7 linked regions of the Homo sapiens genome follow. The protein of the gene in region 4 purifies or fractionates together with the protein of the main gene of each other region. This does not show direct contact. Each region holds a gene or a part of one and is shown on either strand. Other genes may lie near its edges. The genes, in order: CNTNAP1, GUSB, CRELD2, NXPH3, DNAJC3, WDR73 and MAN2B2.

Region 1 (3,500 bases), 6.9 Mb from region 4:
TTCAGCTGCGATATCAGCTGGGCACCAGTCCCTACGTGTACCAGCTAACCACTCGACCAGTGACCGATGGCCAGCCCCATAGCATCAATATCACCCGTGTTTACCGGAACCTCTTCATCCAGGTATGCATAGAGGGAGGTGAGCCAGTTCAGATCATAACCTCATGGTCTCCGTTGTGGCATCCAGGAAAACATCAAATACTTAATATTTGTAGATCACATTTGAATGTATAGAGGATTTTCACGTGTGTCACCTCATGTAACCCTCACAATAGCTCCAAGGGGACAATAGGCATTTTTTTTTTTTTTTTGAGATGGAATTTTGCTCTTGTTGCCCAGGCTGGAGTGCAATGGTGTGATCTCAGCTCACTGCAACCTCTGCCTCCCGGGTTCAAGCAATTCTTCTGCCTCAGCCTCCCGAGCAGCTGAGATTACAGGCATGCGCCACAACGCCCAGCTAATTTTGTATTTTTAGTAGAGACAGGAGTTCTCCATGTTGGTCAGGCTGGTCTCGAACACCCGACCTCAGATGATCCGCCTACCTCAGCCTCCCAAAGTGCTGGGATTATAAGCGTGAGCCACCGCGCCCAGCCAGACAATAGGCATTCTTATTTAAGTGTTTTACAAATCAGTAAAGAGCCTCAGAAAGTAAAGCGGTTTCAGCTACTCAGGAGGGTGAGGCAGGAAAATTGCTTGAACCTGGGAGGTGGAGGTTGCAGTGAGCTGAGATCGTGCCACTGCACTCCAGGCCTAGGCGACAGAGTGAGACTCCATCTCAAAAAAATAAAGTGGTTTACCCAAAGTCAAACCGCTGGTAAGCTGCAAAGATGGGGCTTAAAACCAGGGTTTTAAAAAATATATAGGCCAGGTGCAGCGGCTCACACCTGTAATCCCAACACTTTGGGAGGCTGAAGTGGGAGGACTGCTTGAGGCCAGGAGTTTGAGACCAACCTGAGCAACATAGCAAGACCTCATCTTCACAAAGAAAAATATTTAATAAATAAAATAAAATAATAATAATAAAAATATATATACCAAATCCTACATCTAGGCCCAGGGGTTGCCCACTTCAGATTGAGCTAGGACTCACCCAGCTGGCACCGCCAGTTTGGACAGAATGAGAGATCTCCAGTATCTGCCCCCAAGTATATTCCCAGGGTCCACACAGTTCCAGTCCAGCCCACAGGCATCTGCTTCTGGTCCCCGCTCCCTCATCGCCCTCCCCCTCCCCCTCCCCACCTCAGGTGGACTACTTCCCACTGACAGAGCAGAAGTTCTCGCTGTTGGTGGACAGCCAGTTGGACTCACCCAAGGCCTTGTATTTAGGGCGTGTGATGGGTAAGCTGCGGGTGCGGACGCGTTTTAGGCAAGGAGCTGTGGCATATGTTCCTGGATCCTCAAGGAAAGTGAAGGCCCTGGGAATGGCTGAGGGCAGTGGGAAGGATGAGTGGGAAACCTGTGGACAGTGAGAGTGGCAGGGCCTTTGGGTCCAAGTCCCTCTTTCTGGGCCTGCCTCTCTCTCAGAGACAGGAGTCATTGACCCGGAGATCCAGCGCTACAACACCCCAGGTTTCTCAGGCTGCCTGTCTGGTGTTCGATTCAACAACGTGGCTCCCCTCAAGACCCACTTCCGAACCCCTCGACCCATGACTGCTGAGCTAGCTGAGGCCCTTCGAGTTCAGGGAGAACTGTCCGAATCTAATTGCGGAGCTATGCCACGTCTTGTTTCAGAGGTGCCACCTGAGCTTGATCCCTGGTATCTGCCCCCAGGTACATTCCCAGGACACAGAGGACAGAAGGGAGGGATGACACGGAAGGGAATGATTCTTAACATGGAGGAGGCATCTCCTAACTGGTGCTTTCTCCTCTCCAGACTTCCCCTACTACCATGATGAAGGATGGGTTGCCATACTTTTAGGCTGTGAGTAGCACTGATCACTAAGCTGACCTCCCAAGACTACCCTCTGACTGTCAGCATCCTTTCCCTGCCCCTGATCCCCAAGGCTGCAGGATGGCAAAGGCACTAGATGCACAATGGCACAAAGGATGATGAGACAGGCTATGCTGAAGGTGCCATATAACTGGGCAGAGATTTTTAGATGTTTGAGGATGAGACAGGCTATGCTGAAGGTGACATATAACTGGGCAGAGATTTTTAGATGTTTGAGGATGCTACAGATTTTTAAATAAAATATTAAAATGAGACTATAGCTAAGGGATGGGAAAATGGGGATACAGTAACACCTAGAGAGATAAGAAATTGGGGTAACTACCAGGGATGTGGAAAGAGAATATTAGAAACAGAAGGTGGCAGGGGGTAAGCCAGGAATTCAAACCTGCCAGACACTTGAGATGAGTTTAGTGTGGTCGAACAGCTAACTGAGGGTCATACATTATGCTTTTGGCCAAAAGTAAATGTGTGTGTGTGTGTGTGTGTGTGTGTGTGTGTGTGCAGGTGAAATCCCAAAGTGTGTGTATGTATACAGGTGAAATCTCAAAGAGTGCGTGTGTGTGTGTGTGTGTGTGTGTGTGTGTGTGTATACAGGTGAGATCCCAAAGATCTGAATTGTCCCTTTTCTTCTTTTCAGTTTTGGTGGCCTTTCTGCTGCTGGGGCTGGTGGGAATGTTGGTGCTCTTCTATCTGCAAAATCATCGCTATAAGGGCTCCTACCATACCAATGAGCCCAAGGCTGCCCACGAGTACCATCCTGGCAGCAAACCTCCCCTACCCACTTCAGGCCCTGCCCAGGTCCCCACCCCTACAGCAGCTCCCAACCAAGCTCCAGCCTCAGCCCCAGCCCCAGCCCCAACTCCAGCCCCAGCCCCTGGCCCCCGGGATCAGAACCTACCCCAGATCCTGGAGGAGTCCAGGTCTGAATGAGTCAGAAGGGCTTCTGGGACCAATTCCAGCTCCTGACATTCCCCCAGTCCTGCCTCTCCCCCATCCTATCAGGGACATTTGGCTCCTCTTAGCTGGCTCTGCTCATCCAGAGGATATTCCCCCATCCCCCCCCCATCAAGTTTGGTGGGCAGAGCTACAGATGGGACCCAAGGGAGTGGCCGAGCCTCACTGCCTAAACCAATGCCCTTCTCATCCCTGTTTCCCCAGGCTCCTGGCTGTTTATCTGCCCCAAAGGAGAAGCCTCATGGGGTTGACATAGGTCCTTTCTGCCATCTCTGTTCCAGCTGCTGTCAGGGATTAACAACAGAGTGTAGGGGAGATTAACTGCCTCCCTTCCAATAGACACTATCAGCAGGGACAGATGTGTGGGAGTGCAGGGCTGCAGAGGGTATGGGGGGAGGAGGCTGCTAAACCCTATCCCCCAGCCTCCCCCCTGCCCTGAAGATCTTCCATTTGCTTCCACTCAGCTGGAGGCTCAAGAGGGCTTGATGGCTGTCCCCTGCCCCCCTCCTTTTGTTTTGTACACAGAGACCAAGAGGCCTCAGTTTAGCACCTTAGTACCTCCGCTGCTTCACTTGCTTTAGCCAAAGCCATAAAAA
Region 2 (2,515 bases), on a different chromosome or scaffold from region 4:
GTTTCTCCATGTTGGTCAGGCTGGGCTTGAACTACCGACCTCAGGTGATCCGCACATCTGGGCCTCCCAAAGTGCTGGGATTACAGGCATGAGCCACCATGGCCAGCTGAAACTCGGTCTTAAAAAGAAAAAAGAAATGAGCTGCATCACGTTGGGCAAGTCACCTAAGCTTTTCATAAGCCTGTCCAGTGGGGATAATGCCACCTCCTTGTTGGTGTCGTAAGGGCTGCATTTGATGAAGTACTTGGCGATGCCTGTGTTCACTTATGGAAGAAACAGTCTTGAACCTTTTGGTGGGGAAAGCCCCCTTTCCATTTAACATTTCCATTTAGTGGTGGTCTTACTGGGGACAGAGAATGTCCTGAGAGCACAGCCCTGACAGGTCGTTGCCAGCTGTGCTCCTCCACCAGGCTCAGCTCAGGCCTAATGACCACCAGTGGTGGGTGCTGCCAAGCTGGACGTCAGCCCCGGCGGACTTTGAACTCCATGAGTAGGTCCCACGCAGGGACCTGTGGCTGGTCAGGACCCTGGCTCCCACTAGGCGCTATCTCTTCAGAAAGGCCCAAGGCTTTTCAAGGGTAACTGTCCCAGATACCCCTAGCCCTCTGCCTACCCAGTTACCAGACAGCTGGGTACCCAGCATGTAAACCTTAGTTTGCAAATAAAAGATAAACTTTTAGTGCTTTTTTTTTTTTTGGAGATGGAGTCTCACTCTGTCGCCCAGGCTGGAGTGCAGTGGCACAATCTCAGCTCACTGCAACCTCTGCGTCCTGGGTTCAAGCGATTCTCCTGCCCCAGCCTCCTGAGTAGCTGGGACCACAGGCACCCACCACCATGCCTGTATAATTTTTGTATTTTTAGTAGAGATGAGGTTTCACCATATTGTCCAGGCTGGTCTTAATCTCCTGACCTTGTGATCCGCCTGCTTTGTCCTCCCAGAGTGCTGGGATTACAGGCATGAGCCAATGTGCCCAGCCAGTTTTTGTATTTTTAATAGAGGCGGGTTTCCTCATGTTGGCCAGGCTGATCTTGAACTCCTGACCTCAGGTGATCCACCTGCCTCAGCCTCCCAAAGCACTGGGATTACAGGCGTTGGCCACCACACCTGGCCACTGTTTTGGGTTTTTTTCCCCTAACAGACTAGAAAACTAGAAATTAACACACCAGGGAACCTGGGTGTTTGGGCAGAGCAGTGGTATTTAAATATTTCAACCCATAAATTGTCACTTCAGAGCAAGCATCCTGAAACTGTAAGAGGACATTTGGCTGAGCATGGTGGCTTGTGCTTATAATCCCAGCACTTTAGGGAGGCTAAGGAGGGCAGATTGCTTGAGCCCAGTAGTTTGAGACCAGCCTGGACAACATAATGAGACCTTGTCTTTACTAAAAAATAAAAATAAAAGATTACCGGGCATGGTGGTGCTGGAGAGGCTGAGGCAGGAGGATTGCCTGAGCCCAGGAGGTTGAGGCTGCAGTGAGCTATGATTGTGTCACCGCATTCCAGCCTGGGCAACAGGGAGAAAAAAGAAAAAAAAAGACATTTCTATTTAGTGCCTACCTTAGCTCCAGACTGGTTCTAACTTGACCCATCAGAAGACATCTGAATCGCTTTGTGTCTTTTTTTTTTTTTTGTAGCACCGACGAGAGTGCTGGGGAATAAAAAGGGGATCTTCACTCGGCAGAGACAACCAAAAAGTGCAGCGTTCCTTTTGCGAGAGAGATACTGGAAGATTGCCAATGAAACCAGGTATCCCCACTCAGTAGCCAAGTCACAATGTTTGGAAAACAGCCTGTTTACTTGAGCAAGACTGATACCACCTGCGTGTCCCTTCCTCCCCGAGTCAGGGCGACTTCCACAGCAGCAGAACAAGTGCCTCCTGGACTGTTCACGGCAGACCAGAACGTTTCTGGCCTGGGTTTTGTGGTCATCTATTCTAGCAGGGAACACTAAAGGTGGAAATAAAAGATTTTCTATTATGGAAATAAAGAGTTGGCATGAAAGTGGCTACTGAAAAGCATCTGAAATCATTTCTGTGCGTCGTGCTGTTTTCAGAGCTTTAACTGTGTGTGGACTTTTGAGAAACTGCTGCTCCAACACCCCCACCACGTTCAGAGCAGCTGGTTCCCGAGGGCGTCTGCAGGAATAGCCCCATGGTCCTAGGGCCACCGTGTTTGTGTAGCAAACCAGGCCAGCCTCGACAGGGAGTGAGTAGAAGACTTTCACAGCTGCTGTTCGACTCCTCAGATGAGCTAAAGTCCCACATGTACCAACAAATTCATAGAAACGCTGTCATTGTTGCAGCACTTAACAGGGTCTGTGTGCCAGTTTCTACATAGTTAAGCTGGCAGTGTCTGAATTGGAAGGTTAGAGGTAACTGGTTCTCCCAGAACATTGTTTTGACCTCAGCCATAGGGTCTTGACAGAAATGGACAGATGAGTGTAAAAGCCTATTGGCTTTATCATAACGGATGCCACTGAATGTGACAGGACCTCCTTAAACAACTTTGCCTACAA
Region 3 (3,202 bases), on a different chromosome or scaffold from region 4:
GGGACCAGGCCAAGTGGGACTTGGGGGCTATGAGGAGCCCAGGGAGGAGGCCATGGCCCCCCGGAACGGAGCTCCCAGAGCCTGCAGCCTCTCACCCGCAGCCAGCTTTCTTCTTGCAGTGTCTTCATTCCCAGATGAGGAACGGGCAGGCCCTGCGGTTTGTGAGTGGCTGTTTCCTCCAGCGAAGCCCCCAAAGATGCTTTTCCCCTGCCTGAGGGTCCCTGCTTGTACATCCTTTGAATCACTGAAGAGGGCCCATAGGTTGGACCCCTGAAACCCACCTGGTCACGTCTTCAGGTTCTCGCCCAAGGCAGGGCCCTCCCCTCCTCCCCCAAGCGGCACGTGAGCCCTGTTCAGGGACAGCAGAGCCACCAGCCCAGGACCGGACCTGCTGCCTCTGCGGACCTCGGCAGCCCTGGTCACTCCCGGCTCTGGCAGGACAGGTGCAAACTCAGTGGTAAAGGTCCGTCCTGATTAATGAGACAAACCCACGCCCGTTCTCCTCCTGATTACCTACAATGGTCAATTTTATTACAAAGAACTGTATCAAAATATACAAGTCTGTTTAAGAACAACCAAGAAATGCAGCTGTTTAAGGGACAAATGAGAATCAACCGTTAGAGAGCAGGCAGCCTCTCCCCGCCGCTGTCCACTGCAGGAGACGGCATCCTCAGGGCCACATTTTCCACGGGACATCCTTCTGAATAATTTAAAGGGTAAGTCCGGCACATTACAGGTCTTCGCGGGAGGGCAGCTGTGTCGGGCTTTCTCCTTCTGTGGCTTCTGTCAGAAAACAAGCATAGGTCGTCAAGGCTGAGCACAAAGGGCCCTGGGGATGAGGCCTTTCCCAGGACAGCAGCGCATGTGCAGGGCCTGCCCGTCCAGTCCTGGCTCAAAGCCCCGGACGCAGCCATCCAAGGGCAGCTCGGAGACCCCCGTTTCCCACAAAGCAGATGAGAGATGAGGCAGACGGCATTTCAGAGCCCCCACGCTGCCGTGGGTGTGGAGGATGCAGAGTTGGGAGCGGCAAGGGGTTCCTTGCGGCCTGGCAGAATGGGAGCCTGAACAATGGTTGTGGCGGGAGGAGAAAGAGGGGACCGAGGGTGGGGGAGGTAGGAGAAAGAGGGGACTGAGGGTGGTACGGGGAGGGAGGGGCAAGAGGGGACCGAGGGTGGGGGGGAGGGAGGAGAATGAGGGGACGGGGGGGAGGGAGGGGCAAGAGGGGACCCGGGGTGGGGGGAGGGAGGGGCAAGAGGGGACCCGGGGTGGGGGGAGGGAGGGGCAAGAGGGGACCCGGGGTGGGGGGAGGGAGGGGCAAGAGGGGGGGAGGGAGGGGCAAGAGGGGACCCGGGGTGGGGGGAGGGAGGGGCAAGAGGGGACCCAGGGTGGTGGGAGGGAGGGGCAAGAGGGGACCGAGGGTGGGGGGAGGGAGGGGCAAGAGGCAGGGCCAGCCCAGGGCAGAGGGGACCGAGGGGGTAGCAGGCAGCCTTGTCTTCTGGCCTGTCCGTCTCTGCTAACCCCTCAGTTCTGTCTTGCTGTTGCTGTTTACTACGATGCTTCTAGATGTGGAATTGCTTTTATTTGTCCTGCTCAGGAAACAGCTTCTGGAATCTGAATCGTGCCTTATTCATTCTGAAAAACCCTTAGCCAATATCTCCTTGAACACTGCTTCTTTCCCACTCTCTATATTCTAGACTTCTGTGAGGACTGTCACGGGCAGATTTATGTCCCCCAAAACACGCTGAAGTCTTTACTCCCAGTACCTGTGATTGTGACCTTGTTTGGAAATAGGGTCTTTACCACTGGCCAGGTTAACATGAGGGCATTAGTGACTGGTGTCCTTACAAAGAGGGGAGGTTTGGACAGAGACAGACACCCGCATGGAGACCACGTGAAGACACGGGGAGCAGGTGGCATCCCCAGGCGAGGACAGAGGCCCGGAACAGACGCGCCCACCCAGCCTCCCAAGGAAGCAGCCTGCTTGCGTCTGGGCCTCTGACTTCTGGCTCCTGTGAGCGGCACATTTCTGTTGCTGGAGCCCTAAGTTCCTGGTTCTTGGTAAGGTAGCCCCAGGAAACAGGTGTGGGGGACCCGCTTGCCCTCCACCACTTCCTGCCTGTCCCTGTCTCTGCGGCACCCTGGGCAGCTTCCCCGGATGACTTTTCCAGCTCTTTAGCTGCCTCTTCTCCTGCGTCTGCTCCTCTGCTCATCGCCCGCTGAGGTCTGAGCTTCAGAGACTTCCCCCTTCATCGCCTGAACTTCCGTTTGAGCTGTGAACCTGGGGCTTCATCCTCAGGAAGCCAGTACCTCTCGCGCAAGCGTGCCCACACAGAGATGTCATGCACCTGTCTTCCGGGAATCCCCCTCTCACCATCTCAAGGCCACCATCTGTGTGGATTTCAGACCAAGCAGCCAGTCTACGTGCAAGCCCTGCGGCCCAGGGGAGGGCAGCCTGTGTGGAGGGCAGCCGTGCCACTCACCAGCCTCTGCCGGCGGCACACAGGCATCTTCCGTTTCTTCGAAGCCGTCAGGACACACACAGACGTAGCTCCCTGGAGTATTGTAGCAGTTTTCGTTTTTCCTCACACAGGTTTTTTCTGCTAGTGAGCACTCGTCCACATCTAAAATGAAAAGACTCCGTTTTAATAATTACTTTGCTCAGCAGACGCGCAGCGGATTATGAAATTCATTCATTCAGATTCATTCACATAAAGAAAGCACAACGATGACAAACGTCACGTTACAGAAAGGAGCAAAGATCAGGAAAGGCTTCGAGAGGGAAGAATTTCACGTCTCCAAGTTGGGCCCTCAACTGGTAGAAAATGCAGAGAAGAGACCTCCAGGTGGGGCCGGAAGGCCAGCATGCGCCCAGGAAGCCCACTTTCTTTTCCTTTTTTTTTTTTTTTTGAGGCGGAGTCTCGCTCTGTCGCCCAGGCTGGAGTGCGGTGGCGCGATCTCCTCTCACTGCAAGCTCCGCCTCCCGGGTTCACGCCATTCTGCTGCCTCAGCCCCCCGAGTAGCTGGGACTACAGGCGCCCGCCACCACGCCCGACTAATTTTTTGTATTTTTAGTAGAGATGGGGTTTCACCGTGTTAGCCAGGATGGTCTCGATCTCCTGACCTCGTGATCCCCCCGCCTCAGCCTCCCAAAGTGCTGGATTACAGGCATGAACCATGGCGCCTGCCCAGGAAACCCACTTTC
Region 4 (2,728 bases):
GTGTGTCTCACATCTCCACTCAGGAGAGACGGCCCCTGGAAGCATGATGTGGGGGAAACAAGCTGGGTCATTTCCTACAAGGTGGGCTGTAACCAGATGGCTTCTCAGCCCCACCCAACTCTGCGCTGCAGTATGAGGGGACCAGTTTGCGCGGAGCGCTGGTGGGCAGGGGCGAAAGGTGGGGGGTGGCAAGCCCATCTTACCTTACTGCCAGGACTCTCCTCTCCTCAAGAGGGCCCAAAGGGCCCTGAGTGCTGCCCTCCCAAGAGAGCCGACTTAGAATGACCTCCAGAAGGCACTGTGACCTTGGTAGTGTCTTCCCTTCACAGAGTCCCAAAGGGCCCAACTAACTCCCAGACAAGGTGCCACTGGCAGCTGGCCATTCTGAGGCCTCTTACTAGCTGCAGGAGGGGAGTGACTGACGCAGGCCCTGTGTCCACACCCCACTCCAGCCTGTTCCTTCACTGGCATGTGGTCAGATTGAAAATCCAATACAATAGCCCCGATTCTCTGAAAGGCCCCTTCCCCAGGAGAAGCAGATGGAAATTACAGCTGGGAAATCACATCCGAGGTGTCTCCCCCTCCTGCGGAGCCATAGCCAGAGATGAACTTCAAGGTCCTTTGAGTGGGTCTCCCAGCATGGGCCCTGGAGCAGCAGCATCAGCATAGACCTGGGCACTCGTTAGAAATTCTAATTCTTAGGCCCCACCCAGGCCTGCTGAATTAGAAATGTGGGTAGGACCCAGAAATCTGTGTGTTAACAAACCCTCTGGGTGATCCGCGTTTGAGAACCCCTGGTCTGGGCAAGCCCTTCATGTCATAGAGGAAGAAACAAAGAAAGAAAGCCAGAGAGGAGAATGGACATGGCCAAGGCCACGCAGCAAAATGACGGGGCTAGGACCCTGCTGGGTCTGCAGATGGCAGTTCAGGGAGGACACCAAGGAACACCCTCATTGGCCCATTCTACCTGCTAGCTCTCCCTCCCTGAGCTGTTCTTGAAGATGCTACGCCCTCCTCCAGCACCGAGCCCAGGGTGTTTGCTCAAGTTTCCTCGTGGGGGATCAGACAGCTTGGAACCGGGGCTGGAGAGGGAAGCCCTGAGCCCTCAGCAAACATCAGCGCCAAGGGCGGTTGGATCCCTGCCACTTGGGTCTCAAGCAAATGTCCTGCGGCCATCAGAGAAATTCTTCCTGGACCAAGGGATGCCTGAGGCCCTTTCCTTGGACAACTCTGACTCCAGTGCCCCGGGGCAAGCTTTATTTCCTGCTCCAAGAACACGATTCTTCACACAAAAGTCAGCAATCAGCGGTTTCACAAGACTTCCCTCCCCTCCCCCCACCCACAGACAGACACACAGAACAGATCCAGCACATGCTCTGCGGCCCGGCCCCGCCCCACCCGTGCCCGCTGCTGAGAGGGCGGCGCCATCCAGATCCGGGAGAACCCCGGTCTGACAGGTGAGGCTGACTGTTGAGGGACCCCTCTCCGGGACATGGATGCTCCCAGAGGAGCCAGCAGGGGTTGGGGTGGAAGAGGGACACACAGCACGCGGATGGGCTGTGGCCTTAGTGTGGGAGGACCACAATCGTCCTGTCTTAGCTTAAGGATGGGTGTGCCATCAGCAATGGGTGGTACAGGGGGAGTACTGGCAGAAGAGGGAATTTTGGAAAGGGGTGGCCTGGCTGGAGACAGATGGTCAATCTGTCAAGACATCAAAGACCCCAGGGTTGCCACTTCAGCCTCATGCCATGCTCAGCACACGACAAGGGGCTGAGGGCGCCCACTAGGCAGGGCTGGAGAGCTCCTCTGGCCCCACCCCACCCTGCTGACTGGCTCCTAGGAAGCCCTCTCAGCCATCCATCCTAAGTTGACAGGCTGTCCACACTGATGAAATCTCCCCCTCCCTGTTGCTATCTTTCCTCAGGATGGCAAGAACCAAGGGCTTAGCTTCCTCCCATGACTTGATCTGGGGCCACACTGATCGGCCTGCCCACAGGCCTCGGGGACCCAGCATCTCTCTGTGGCTCCGTGGCAAAGCCCTGTGAGGCTGCACAGAGAGCCCACTCCTCCTCCAGTGCTCCTGTGATCTAGTCACTCCACAGCTTCAGGTTGGGACCAGCACTTGGGACCCTTTCTCTGCCACTTGAGACTTGGCCCTGGCCCCACTTGGCATCTCCTCGTCTCCACCCCCCTCCCTGCCTGAGGCCCAACCCCTTCCCTGCCCGGTGTCCAGATGGTCTCCTGCATGGGCAGGCCTGTCCTTCCAGCCCTGGCCTGGCCTCTGTGGCCTGCCCCGGGTCACCCAGATGGGTAGTAGGGGGTATCACTATGGTAGTTGTAATCTGGGCACACCTTCTGGACCAGCCGATAGTCCGTGCTGTAGAAGGCGATGTAGACACAGACGACTTTGAAGGGCTGGGAGCAGCTCCAGGTGGCTGAGCTCTGAGCGTGGTCTCGGGAGCAGATCTTGGCTGGGTCGTGGGTGCAAAGCGAGGTCCGGCGGCCCCGTTCTACCTTCTCCCACTCCATCCGGCAGTTGAAGATTTTGGAGGCCTTGGCTTCGATGAAGATCTGCTGTTCCTGGTGGAACTCTACAGCTTTACTGGGGGGCACGAGGCTGATGGAGATGTTTCCCTGGCCTGTGGCATTGTGTTGGAAGTGGACGCTGAAGGTCCCATTGCCATGGTCCACAATCTTCCCTGTGACGAGCAGGTTCAGGGCCACCGTC
Region 5 (3,500 bases), on a different chromosome or scaffold from region 4:
TAAGGAAGTTATTTCATTTCTTTGCTAATGGTTTGTCCTCTTGGTGACTTGAGTAGCAACACAGCCTGGGAACGAAACCTTTTTTCTCTTATCATAGTTTTATCTCTTTTTCTTCCTTAACATGCTATCTGGACCCAATTTTTCTTTATTTCATTGAGCTGATTAAACCATATATTTTGGCCATGGGGAAAAGAATAGTTGAAAATATATAGTTGAAAATCTATACGTATAAAATATTGTGATAAGTTTTATTTGAACCATGATAAGTTTTATTTGAACCTAACCTATTAAAGGTATGTTTTGTCTTTTCTAGGATTTTCTTGACATTATCTAAATAGGGAAAGAATAAAGTAGCAAAAATGAGTGACTTTAAGTAATTTAAATAAATTAAGTATCATAAAAGGTGGTCACATATTTTCTAGAATTATTTTAAATTCTTTAATAAGATAGGCTGTAGTTAGCAGTAGTATCAAAGTTCCAGTTCTCTTGACATAGTTAGTATTTGCTGAGAAACTGCCTGGAAATGCAGTGGTTTTCATTCTGTGAGGTAGGGGAAGTTGTTCTGGGAGGGGATGCACTGTAGTAATTAGGTTTTATTTTCCCATATGAAGTTAATTAATTGTTGTTAAGTTTAATTTCTACTGCTGTGGTCTCTTTTGATTAGTGTCCTGCAGTTAATCTTTGTTTATATGGAAGTATCATGGGAACCCATTCACCTGCTCTTCAGAACGCAAACATTTCAACCATAGATTTATTTTTCTTTCCATATCTTTAGAAAGCTACTTAAAAAAATTAAATCTGATGAGTTTGTATCATTTGGAGTTCTGGAATATGGAGAAGACTCATTTAATCAGTCAGCAAAGGCTTTTACTAACTATATTGCTCTTTGGTGAGGTATATATACGTAGCATAGAACTCATGGCTTTTGCTTTTGAGTTTACAGACCACTTAGGGTTTAAGACATGCATTTGTGAAGCATTCACGTCCTCTTTTTCTCCTTTCCCGCTTTAGACTGAGTGGTCCATTATTGTAGTTAGTGTACTGCAAATGCCCATTTATTTTCTGGCCCCTGTAATCTTCTGTTTTACTCACCTGCCAAAACCCAACACTGGTTAAATTCAACTTGGCCAACTGTTTTTATACCTTATAGGTAAACACGGACGGAGGAAAATGGAGACAACTTTGCTGATTAGTCTCATTTATCTTTATTTTTATTTTCAATTTTTTTTCGAGACAAGGTCTTGCCCTGTCACCCAGGCTGGAGTGCAGTGGCATGATCCTAGCTCAATGTAGGCTTGACCTCCTGGGCTCAAGCAGTCCTCCCATCTCAGCCTCCTGAATAGCTGGGACCACAGGTATGCACCACTGCATCCCCTACTAAGTTTTTAAAATTTTTTGTAGGGACAGGGTCTTCTATGTTGCCCAGGCTGGTCTTGAACTCCTGGGCTCAAGCAATCCTCATCCCTTGGCCTCCCAAAGTGTTGAGATTACAGGCACGAGCCAATGCACCTGGCCCTGATTAGTCTCATTTTAAAGAAACAATCTCAGTCGCAAATGCACATTAAATACTGCTAACACTCCCACAATTCTTTACTATGTCTATTCTTGAAAATCAATATTTCAAACATTTTCCTCCTTTCTGAAGCCTCTAATTTAAACTCTCCTTTCCTCTCTCCCCTACCTCATTCTTTTAGACCTTGTCTTTACTGAGAAAATGAAAGCCATCACAAGGCAAGTTCTTCTTTCTACCTCAAAATTCACTAGCTTATCTACATTTGTACCTATTCTGCTACTTTTTCTCATATTGAAATACATTAAATGTCTCTATTCCCAGATAAATCTAATCTGTGTACTTACACCCTGGATTCCATTTCCTCTCACCTTCTGAAAATGTTGCTCCTACAGTTGTATCTTTGTGCTGCTATAACAAAATACCACAGACTGAGTAATTTATAAAAAAAATTTCAACCTGAATTTTGGAGAGAACATTCAGATAATAGTAGATGCTGAACTTCCTGTACTATCTTTCTTTGGCTAGATTCCACTGTCTTCTGTGTTTCTGCTACAAGACTTCTTTTAGACTCTACCCCACCTTGCTAGAGTCTTGGCTTAGCCTTCTGTTCTTTTTTAGAGAAGAAACTTAGGGCTTTCCTCATTCCTCATATTCTAAGTGCTCCAACCTGAATAACCATCTCTCTCTCTGGGATTGCTCTCTGGTCTGGGTCTGCCACCGCCTTTGCTTGAACTTTAGTATCTTTGACTATGAGTTCTTGCCTCCTTTAGTCTGGTTCTTCCAGTCTTGATTGTAACTCACGTCATACCTTTAACCCCCCACCTTTAAGTTTAAAAAAATCCTTATTTTCTGCTCTCCAAAATATAAGATATTCTAATACTAATTTCAGTGAAAGACATAGTTGGCTACTCTACCTTTTTCCCTGCCCTTGCTGCTTATTTTGCTGACTTATGATCACTGCTTGTCTAAGGAGAAACCTATTGTCTAATGCTGATTAGGAAATGGCATGATGTTTGGTTGTCTTACCTCTCTGAAAATAATGTTTACAGACCATGTGGCAAAGGAATAAAAATTACCTGTGGCTCAAAAGAGAGTGGATTGCAAAAACAGCCAATAATTCGCAAATAATTTGATTTTTCAGATGTGTCTTTATGAATCATTGATCATATGTTTGACTTGATAATTGTTATGTATTTTAGATTTTATTCTGATGAATTATAATACGTTTAAGTAAAAAGGCAAATAGTTAAATTCATTCAACAAATATTGCATACCCACTATGTGCGGGATACTGAATTAGGTGATACAAAGAAGAAAAGACAGCTCCTCCTCTCAAACTTGCTTTTGATAAGTTTTGTGGAGTTGGGACTTTGAGAAGCAGGCAAATTGTGAAAAGCAATATATAGAGAGAGTGATATTGCAAAGTGAAGTCATGTACTTCTGAGTGTGGAAATGCAAAATATAGGAAGATTGAAGGAGCTTTTTTTCCCTCTCTCAAAACAATACAGTGTGAGGGAAGGTTTCACAAAGGAGCCAGCATTTGAGGGCAGAATCTTTTTTTTTGTTTAACTTTATTTTATTTTAGATTCAAGATATACATGTGCAGGTTACATGGGTATATTGTGTAATGGTGGGGTGGTATGATTTAGATCTGTGCCCCACCCAAATCTCATGTTCAGCTGTAATCCCCAGTGTTGGATCTGGGGCCTGGTGGGAAGTGATTGGATCATGGGGGTGGTTTCTAATGGTTTAGCACCATCCCCCAGAGCTGTTATTGTGATAGAATTCTCACAAGATCTGGTTGTTTAAAAGTGTGCAGTATCTCCCCCCTCTCTGTCTTCCTCCGGCTCTGGCCATGTGAAGATGTGCCTACTTCTCCTTTACCTTTTGCCATGATTGTAAATTTCCTGAGGCCTCCCCAGCCATGCTTCATGTACAACCTACAGAACCGTCAGCCAATTAAACCTCTTTTCTTTATAAATTACCC
Region 6 (2,749 bases), on a different chromosome or scaffold from region 4:
ATGGAGTCTCACCCTGTCACCCAGGCTGGAATGCAGTGGCACAATCTCGGTTCACTGCAGCCTCTACCTCTCAGGTTCAAGCAATTCTCCTGCCTCACCCTCCTGAGTAGTGGGGATTACAGGTGTGCCACCACCATGCCCGTCTCTAATTTTTATATTTTTAGTAGAGACGGGGTTTCACCATGTTGGCCAGGCTGGTCTTGAACTCCTGACCTCAAGTGATCCACCCACCTTGGCCCCCCACAAAGTGCTGGGATTACAGGCGTGAGCCACTGTGCCTGGTCTATCTTTAAATTCCTATCTGAATTTGTTTAGGTTTTTTAAATAAAAATCTTTCTTTTTTTTTAGAGACAGGGGTTCACCATGGTGCCCAGGCTGATCTCGAACTCCTCCTGGACTCAAGCTATCCTCCCACCTCAGCCTCCCAAAGTACTGGGATTACAGACATGAGCCACATGCTTGACCTGAATTTTAACTGCAGTTAATTATCACTTAACCAGCGAATTCACACAGGAGAAATCCCCTGGCCGGGCGCGGTGGCTCACACCTGTAATCCCAGCTCTTCGGGAGGCCGAGGTGGGTAGATCACAAGGTCAAGAGATCAAGACCATTCTGGCCAACATGGTGAAACTCCGTCTGTACCAAAAATACAAAAATTACCTGGGCATGGTGGTACGTGCCTGTAATCCCAGCTACTTGGCAGGCTGAGGCAGGAGCATTGCTTGAACCCATGAGGTGGAGGTTGCAGTGAGCCGAGATCACGCCACTGCACTCAAGCCTGGGTGACAGAGCAAGACTCCATCTCTACTACAAAAAAAAAAAAAAAAAAAATTCAACCACCTTAGGAAGCCTCTCATTTATGTATTTCTAGCATGTAATTAGTGTTGCACATGGGAAGGGCTAATAGATGCTGACAGAGTGAACAACTTATCTATTTTGTGTGTGTGTGTGTAACAGGGTCTCATTCTGTTGCCCAGGCTGGAATACAGTGGCATGATCACAGCTCACTGCAAACTTCAACTGCCAGGCTCAGGCAACCCTCCCACCTCAGCCTCTTGAATAGCTGGGACTGCAGGCTCATACCACCACAACCAGCTAACTTGTATTTTTAGTAGAGACAAGGTTTCGCCATGTTGCTCAGGCTAGTCTCGAACTCCTGGACTCAAGTGATCCACCTGTCTTGGCTGCCTACATTGCTGGGATTACAGGCATGAGCCACCATGCCCAGCCAAATTTTTTTTTTTTTTTAAGGGAAGGGATCTTGCTATGTTGCCCAGGCTGGTCTCAAACTCCTCAGCTCAAGCAATCTGCCCACCTCAGCCTCTGAAAGTGCTGGGATTACAGGCATGAGCCACCATGTCCAGCACACTTTAATATTCACTATGGGCCCTCAAAAGGAAATGTTTGTGGGGCCACCAAAAGCAAATGTCTCTTGAACCTAGTCACCTGGGGGGACAAGTGTGGGAAAGTGCACCTGTGTTCCCATGAGACCCACTCAAGAGGAGCAGAAATCCTGTTTTGCTATTTCCTTAATTGCTACTAGGGCTGGGATTTTTTCATGTTTATTGGCCCCTCTACATTTTTTTCTTTAAAAAAATTCACAAAGCATGTTTATATTTGTTAGCTCTTTTGATTCTCCCTATGATAGTGTGAAGACAGGGACAAAACGCTACCATTTCACACTCCCAGATCTAACAATAGCTACCAAGTAATTATGCCATGCGTTTCTTCTAACCTTCGCAATATCACTACGAGGTAGTTCTTACTATCCTCATTTTACAGATAAGGAAACTGAGGCTAAGTGACGCTGGCAGACTTGCCCAAGGCCACACAGCTGGTAACAGGGACTGGTAGTCACTTGAGTCCTACATGAGCACCCTTGCTACTACAGCAGCTCCTCCCCTTTCTAGAGGCCTAGATGGAAAGATGCTGGTGTCAGCGGGGGGCACAAAGGTCCACCCAGTCCCACACATGCAGAGAGGCATCATTTGTTGCTGATAACAAAGTCCTTGGTCTGCAGGGATGCCAGGTGTGGGTGGTGACCAAAGGAGCAGGGTCCATCCCATTTCCATCTAGGAAGATGTGACCTCTGTGAGTGAAGAGAGGTTCTACTTGGCTCCGTGTTCCATCTTGGCTCCGTGTTCCATCCCAAGATGTGGCATCATAGACCTGGACTGTACCATCAAAACCTGAGAATACAGAAAAGAGAGGCTTGACAATGAGTCCCTAATTTTATTTTAAAATAATTTTCTTTCTATTTTTAATAGAGATGGGGTTTCACCATGTTGACCAGGATGGTCTTGAACTCCTAGCCTCAAGCGATCCTCCCATCTCAGCCTCCCAAAATGCTGGGATTACAGGCACCCAGCCCCTAAAATACTTTTTATAATTTGTTCTATGGTACCAAAACAGGCTATTGGATGAGGAATCAAGGCACTTAAAAGGCTAACCACGGGCAAGTAGCATCTGCCCTCAGTGTTGGCAGCTGATGACTCCGTGGGGCATGTAACCATGAGCATCCGTTGTGCACCTGTTATGCGTGAGGCTCGAAGGCTAATTCTGGACAAGTATTAGCTCTTTTAATCCTCAGAACTGTATGACACAGATACTGTTATTTTACCCAGGAAACTGAGGCTTAAGAGACTTCTTCAAACCTTTTCAAGTTGCCCCAGAGTCCAGTCCCCTACCTCTGGGTCCCTTTCAGCAGATGGCCTTGTCTCCTACTCGATGGGGGAAACAGAAGCCTTTG
Region 7 (3,500 bases), on a different chromosome or scaffold from region 4:
TGTGGGAGGTGAGGAGTGGGGCTGGCATCAGGTGCACAGCAGAGGTGAGAGGGGATCAGGGGGAGCGTGGACTAGGAGTGTGGGTGGAGGCTGTGCATATGTAAGCAGAGAGGATGGAGAAGGAGCAGCCAGAGGGTGGGGGGAGCACAGGGGGAGTGCCAGCTGCAGGATGAAGGAGGGAGTGGGCAACAGCACCGCACTGAGAGGAGCCAGGAGCTCTGGAGGGTACGGCCTCGCACCAGACAGGGCAGCCGGTGGGGGCAGGCTGAAGGCTGCCAAGTCAGCACCCCTTTTTCACTCGCAGAACCTTCCCTCTGTTCAGGGTGCACCATGCCCAGCCTCAAGGGACGAATCACAGTTGATCTAAGCCAAATGTGGCACGCTTACTCCCTCCTGTCAGATATTGGTTCTCTCTGTCTGGCAGCTGGAGGGGCATTGTTAAGTAATGAACTGGGAGGCCATCAGGCTGAGCCGGCTCCAGGCCTCGAGTTCCTCTGTCAGCAAACCCAAATCTAACTTGGTGGAAACAGGAAAAGAGAACTTAAGCTTGACCCATCGGAAACTGCCAACCAACCTCTAACTAGGGACTGTTCACTGTAGGCAAATGTTTTCTTTGTCTTGCTTTCAGGAGCACCTTATAGACGTTTCCCTCTCATATTCCCTTAGTGGAGCCATGAACTGCTCACAGTCTAGTACTTCCTGATTCAGGAATCACTGTTTGTTCAAATAAATGCTAACATTTTAGTGTGTCTAAGTTTATCCAACAGAATAGACTATGGGTATAGAAAGCCCCCTCTCTTCCTTTTACTGCCTTGAATGTGGTGTCTGGTAACATGATGGCTGGAGCTATGGCAGCCATATCGTGACCACAAGGGTAAGGACATGAGAATCACAGATATCAAGGTACTGCAGAACCAGTCCCAAACTATCCCCATCTTGTTAAGTAAATGTTCTTAAGACTCAAGTCGCTTTGTTACAGGTAGTTAGACAAGCATGAGTGGGGCAGGGGAGGGCTCTTCCCCCACCCACTAGGAATGTTGGGTGATGGTTTGGCAATTATCACATTGCCTCTCTAGAAGTGAGAAATTGGCAGCCAGCACTAGGGAGAGGGCATTTCCTGATGGTCCACACCTGTTGCACTAACATGTTAATTGAATGCAGGTGCCAGGGAGACGTGACTTCCCGAGCAGGTGCATTAAGAGACAAAATGGCGGAGTTTGACCTTCCAGGGACACTCCACTGGAAAAGGGAAGAAAGCGTCAGATGGGCATGTGTGCAACTTCCTAAACACAGTGCGTGTGCTCACCTCCCAAGGGTAAGGAGGGCACTGTGAGTGCGGGTAGCCCAGCCTAAGGGAAGAATCATGGGAAAGGGGACCAGCCTATAAAGTCCTAGGATCAAGGATCAATACAGCACTTGACCTTCACGTGCCCACTTGGGACTCTTTCAAGCATATTTTCCTTTCTTTCTCATTTTAAAGCCTTTTTAAATAAACTTCCACTTCTGCTCTGAAACATGCCTCAGTCTCTTTTTCTGCCTTATGCCCCTCAGTCGAATTCTTTCTTCCGAGGAGGCAAGAACTGGGGTTGCTGCAGACCCGTACGGATTAGCTGCTGGTAACTTGGATACCTTCCACCACTAACAGCTTTACTTAGGTTTTCTGGCCGTCCAGCAGAAAGCATTCCTGAGACTTCAGGGTGATTCATGACCAAAACTGTTAATTGGCGTCCGATATACATTCTGTCCTTCTTCCTTTTAGTAACAGAACCACACACTCCTTCTTGGTTTTAGCAGGGCAAATGGACTCCCAGCCAGAGACTACATTCCCCAGCCTCCTTTGCAACTGGTAGAGGTCACATGACACCACTCTGGCCAATGGACTGGGAGCAAAATAGACTCTATTCCCCAGCAGTCCCTGCAGTTGAGGGAGGCCATATGATTAAGTTCTGGCCAATGGAAATGTGAGGAGTGATGTGGGCAGGTTCTAGGTCGCCTTTTACAAGGAAGCTGCCTGCCCTGGCTCCACCATTCCCTATCCCCTAGCTGCTGGAAGGACAACTCAGTGGGGTGAGCCAGTCTAGACTGCAACTCAGGCAGGCAACACTGTGGGGGATGGCTGAACATCAAGATGGAAGCAACGTGGATCCCTGGGTCACTCCATGGAGCAGAGCCACCCAATCACCAGAGTGGCCTGCACTGCAGACTTCCACAGGAGAGAAACACACCTTCCTTCTTGTTGGAGTCACTTGGTCTCTGTTCAAGCTGCTGAACCAGTATCCTCACCAGTATAATGACCAGGCCACAAGCAAGCTCACTAGCACATGCAGGGCAGAGGCCAGGATGCAGGGGCTGAGGGTGAAGTAGTGGGAGGTGGTGGGGGGTGAGGGGGTGGTGGGAATAAATGCCATTACAGCCTGAGCTGGAGGGTCTTGCTTTATGATGTTGAGGTCAGGAGTTCAAGACCAGCCTGGGCAACACAGTGGACCCCATGTTAAAAAAAATTTTTTTTTGAAGAGAGACAATTTAAGTGTGTTTTCAATACTGCTGGGGGCCGGGCTTGGTGGCTCAGGTCTGTAATCCCAGCATTTTGGGAGGCCAAGGTGGGCGGATCACTTGAGGTCAGGAGTTCAAGACCAGCCTGGCCAACATGGTGAGATCCCTGTCTTTACTAAAAATATGAAAATTAGCTGGGCATGGTGGTGCACGCCTGTACTCCCAGCTACTCAGGATGCTGAGGCATAAGAATTGCTTGAACCTGCGAGGTAGAGATTGCAGTGAGCCGAGATTGCGCCACTGCACTCCAGCCTGAGTGACAGAGTGAGGCTCTGTCTAACAACAACAACAACAGCAGCAACGGCAACAACAACAACTAAATACTGCTGGAAGGAGTCAGAGAGACAAGAGAAGGTGGAAGAGAGTCTGTGACACAGGAGAGGGATCGCGGATTCAGTGGGAAGGGAGTGGGGTTGGGGGACAGGGCTGAGAGCTTGGGTTTGAATGGCCAGGACAGCAGTGGTCATCCAGGATGGCCCAAGGTGTCTCCTTGACTCTCACCTGGACCCTTTGCCTCTCAGCACCTCTGAGGCGGGAGCTGGGCTCTCTCCCCTCAGGATAGGGGTGAGGGGTTCTTTCCCTCTGGCACCTGCCACTCTGCTGGGCCTCCGCTAAACATCCCAGCTGGGAAAGTGTCCCCTCAGGGAGGGGCATGAAAGCTCTTACCCCCGGGGGCCGCTGCCCACACCCAGCCTTTCCCTGACACTGCAGTGCTGGGAACAAATGCTTTTCCCCTCACTAGAAATGTCACATCTAAAATTAAGGTGGTGTTGGCGTGACTGCCGGGAGCAGGAGTTGGGGAGGTAAAGGCTGGAAAGGTGAGCTTACGGGCAGGCCCAGTGCCCCAGGCCCTGGCGGGCAGCCAGGAGTGGGTCTTGGTTGAGGAGATGCTTTGGCACCCTAGATACCCGAAGAAGAAGGTCAGAGGTCTAGAGGCTGCACCAGCC

What was found.
Region 1: the proteins of NXPH3 (region 4) and CNTNAP1 purify together in Homo sapiens (affinity purification with mass spectrometry; one large-scale study listed by BioGRID and IntAct). This does not show direct contact.
Region 2: the proteins of NXPH3 (region 4) and GUSB purify together in Homo sapiens (affinity purification with mass spectrometry; one large-scale study listed by BioGRID and IntAct). This does not show direct contact.
Region 3: the proteins of NXPH3 (region 4) and CRELD2 purify together in Homo sapiens (co-immunoprecipitation; one large-scale study listed by IntAct). This does not show direct contact.
Region 5: the proteins of NXPH3 (region 4) and DNAJC3 purify together in Homo sapiens (co-immunoprecipitation; one large-scale study listed by IntAct). This does not show direct contact.
Region 6: the proteins of NXPH3 (region 4) and WDR73 purify together in Homo sapiens (co-immunoprecipitation; one large-scale study listed by IntAct). This does not show direct contact.
Region 7: the proteins of NXPH3 (region 4) and MAN2B2 purify together in Homo sapiens (affinity purification with mass spectrometry; one large-scale study listed by BioGRID and IntAct). This does not show direct contact.

What each region holds. Positions count from the first base shown.
Region 1 is NC_000017.11:42,696,031-42,699,530, forward strand, and holds part of CNTNAP1 (contactin-associated protein 1 precursor), read left to right. Parts: coding exon 1-122; intron 123-1,243; coding exon 1,244-1,337; intron 1,338-1,523; coding exon 1,524-1,769; intron 1,770-1,872; coding exon 1,873-1,920; intron 1,921-2,587; coding exon 2,588-2,880; 3' UTR 2,881-3,500. UniProt on the Homo sapiens protein: Required, with CNTNAP2, for radial and longitudinal organization of myelinated axons. Plays a role in the formation of functional distinct domains critical for saltatory conduction of nerve impulses in myelinated nerve fibers.
Region 2 is NC_000007.14:65,960,184-65,962,698, reverse strand, and holds the end of GUSB (beta-glucuronidase isoform 1 precursor), read left to right. Parts: intron 1-1,635; coding exon 1,636-1,802; 3' UTR 1,803-2,015; downstream 2,016-2,515. UniProt on the Homo sapiens protein: Plays an important role in the degradation of dermatan and keratan sulfates.
Region 3 is NC_000022.11:49,924,836-49,928,037, reverse strand, and holds the end of CRELD2 (protein disulfide isomerase CRELD2 isoform b precursor), read right to left. Parts: intron 2,622-3,202; coding exon 2,481-2,621; coding exon of another isoform or gene 2,368-2,480; exon of another isoform or gene 1,470-2,367; intron 784-1,469; coding exon 731-783; 3' UTR 501-730; downstream 1-500. UniProt on the Homo sapiens protein: Protein disulfide isomerase. Might play a role in the unfolded protein response. May regulate transport of alpha4-beta2 neuronal acetylcholine receptor.
Region 4 is NC_000017.11:49,578,871-49,581,598, reverse strand, and holds part of NXPH3 (neurexophilin-3 precursor), read right to left. Parts: coding exon 2,299-2,728; 3' UTR 1-2,298. UniProt on the Homo sapiens protein: May be signaling molecules that resemble neuropeptides. Ligand for alpha-neurexins.
Region 5 is NC_000013.11:95,680,139-95,683,638, forward strand, and holds part of DNAJC3 (dnaJ homolog subfamily C member 3 precursor), read left to right. Parts: intron 1-3,500. UniProt on the Homo sapiens protein: Involved in the unfolded protein response (UPR) during endoplasmic reticulum (ER) stress.
Region 6 is NC_000015.10:84,641,535-84,644,283, forward strand, and holds part of WDR73 (integrator complex assembly factor WDR73), read right to left. Parts: intron 2,190-2,749; coding exon 1,936-2,189; 3' UTR 1-1,935. UniProt on the Homo sapiens protein: Component of a multiprotein complex required for the assembly of the RNA endonuclease module of the integrator complex. Associates with INTS9 and INTS11 in the cytoplasm, stabilizing the INTS9-INTS11 heterodimer and blocking the active site of INTS11.
Region 7 is NC_000004.12:6,581,689-6,585,188, reverse strand, and holds part of MAN2B2 (epididymis-specific alpha-mannosidase isoform 1 precursor), read right to left. Parts: intron 1-3,500.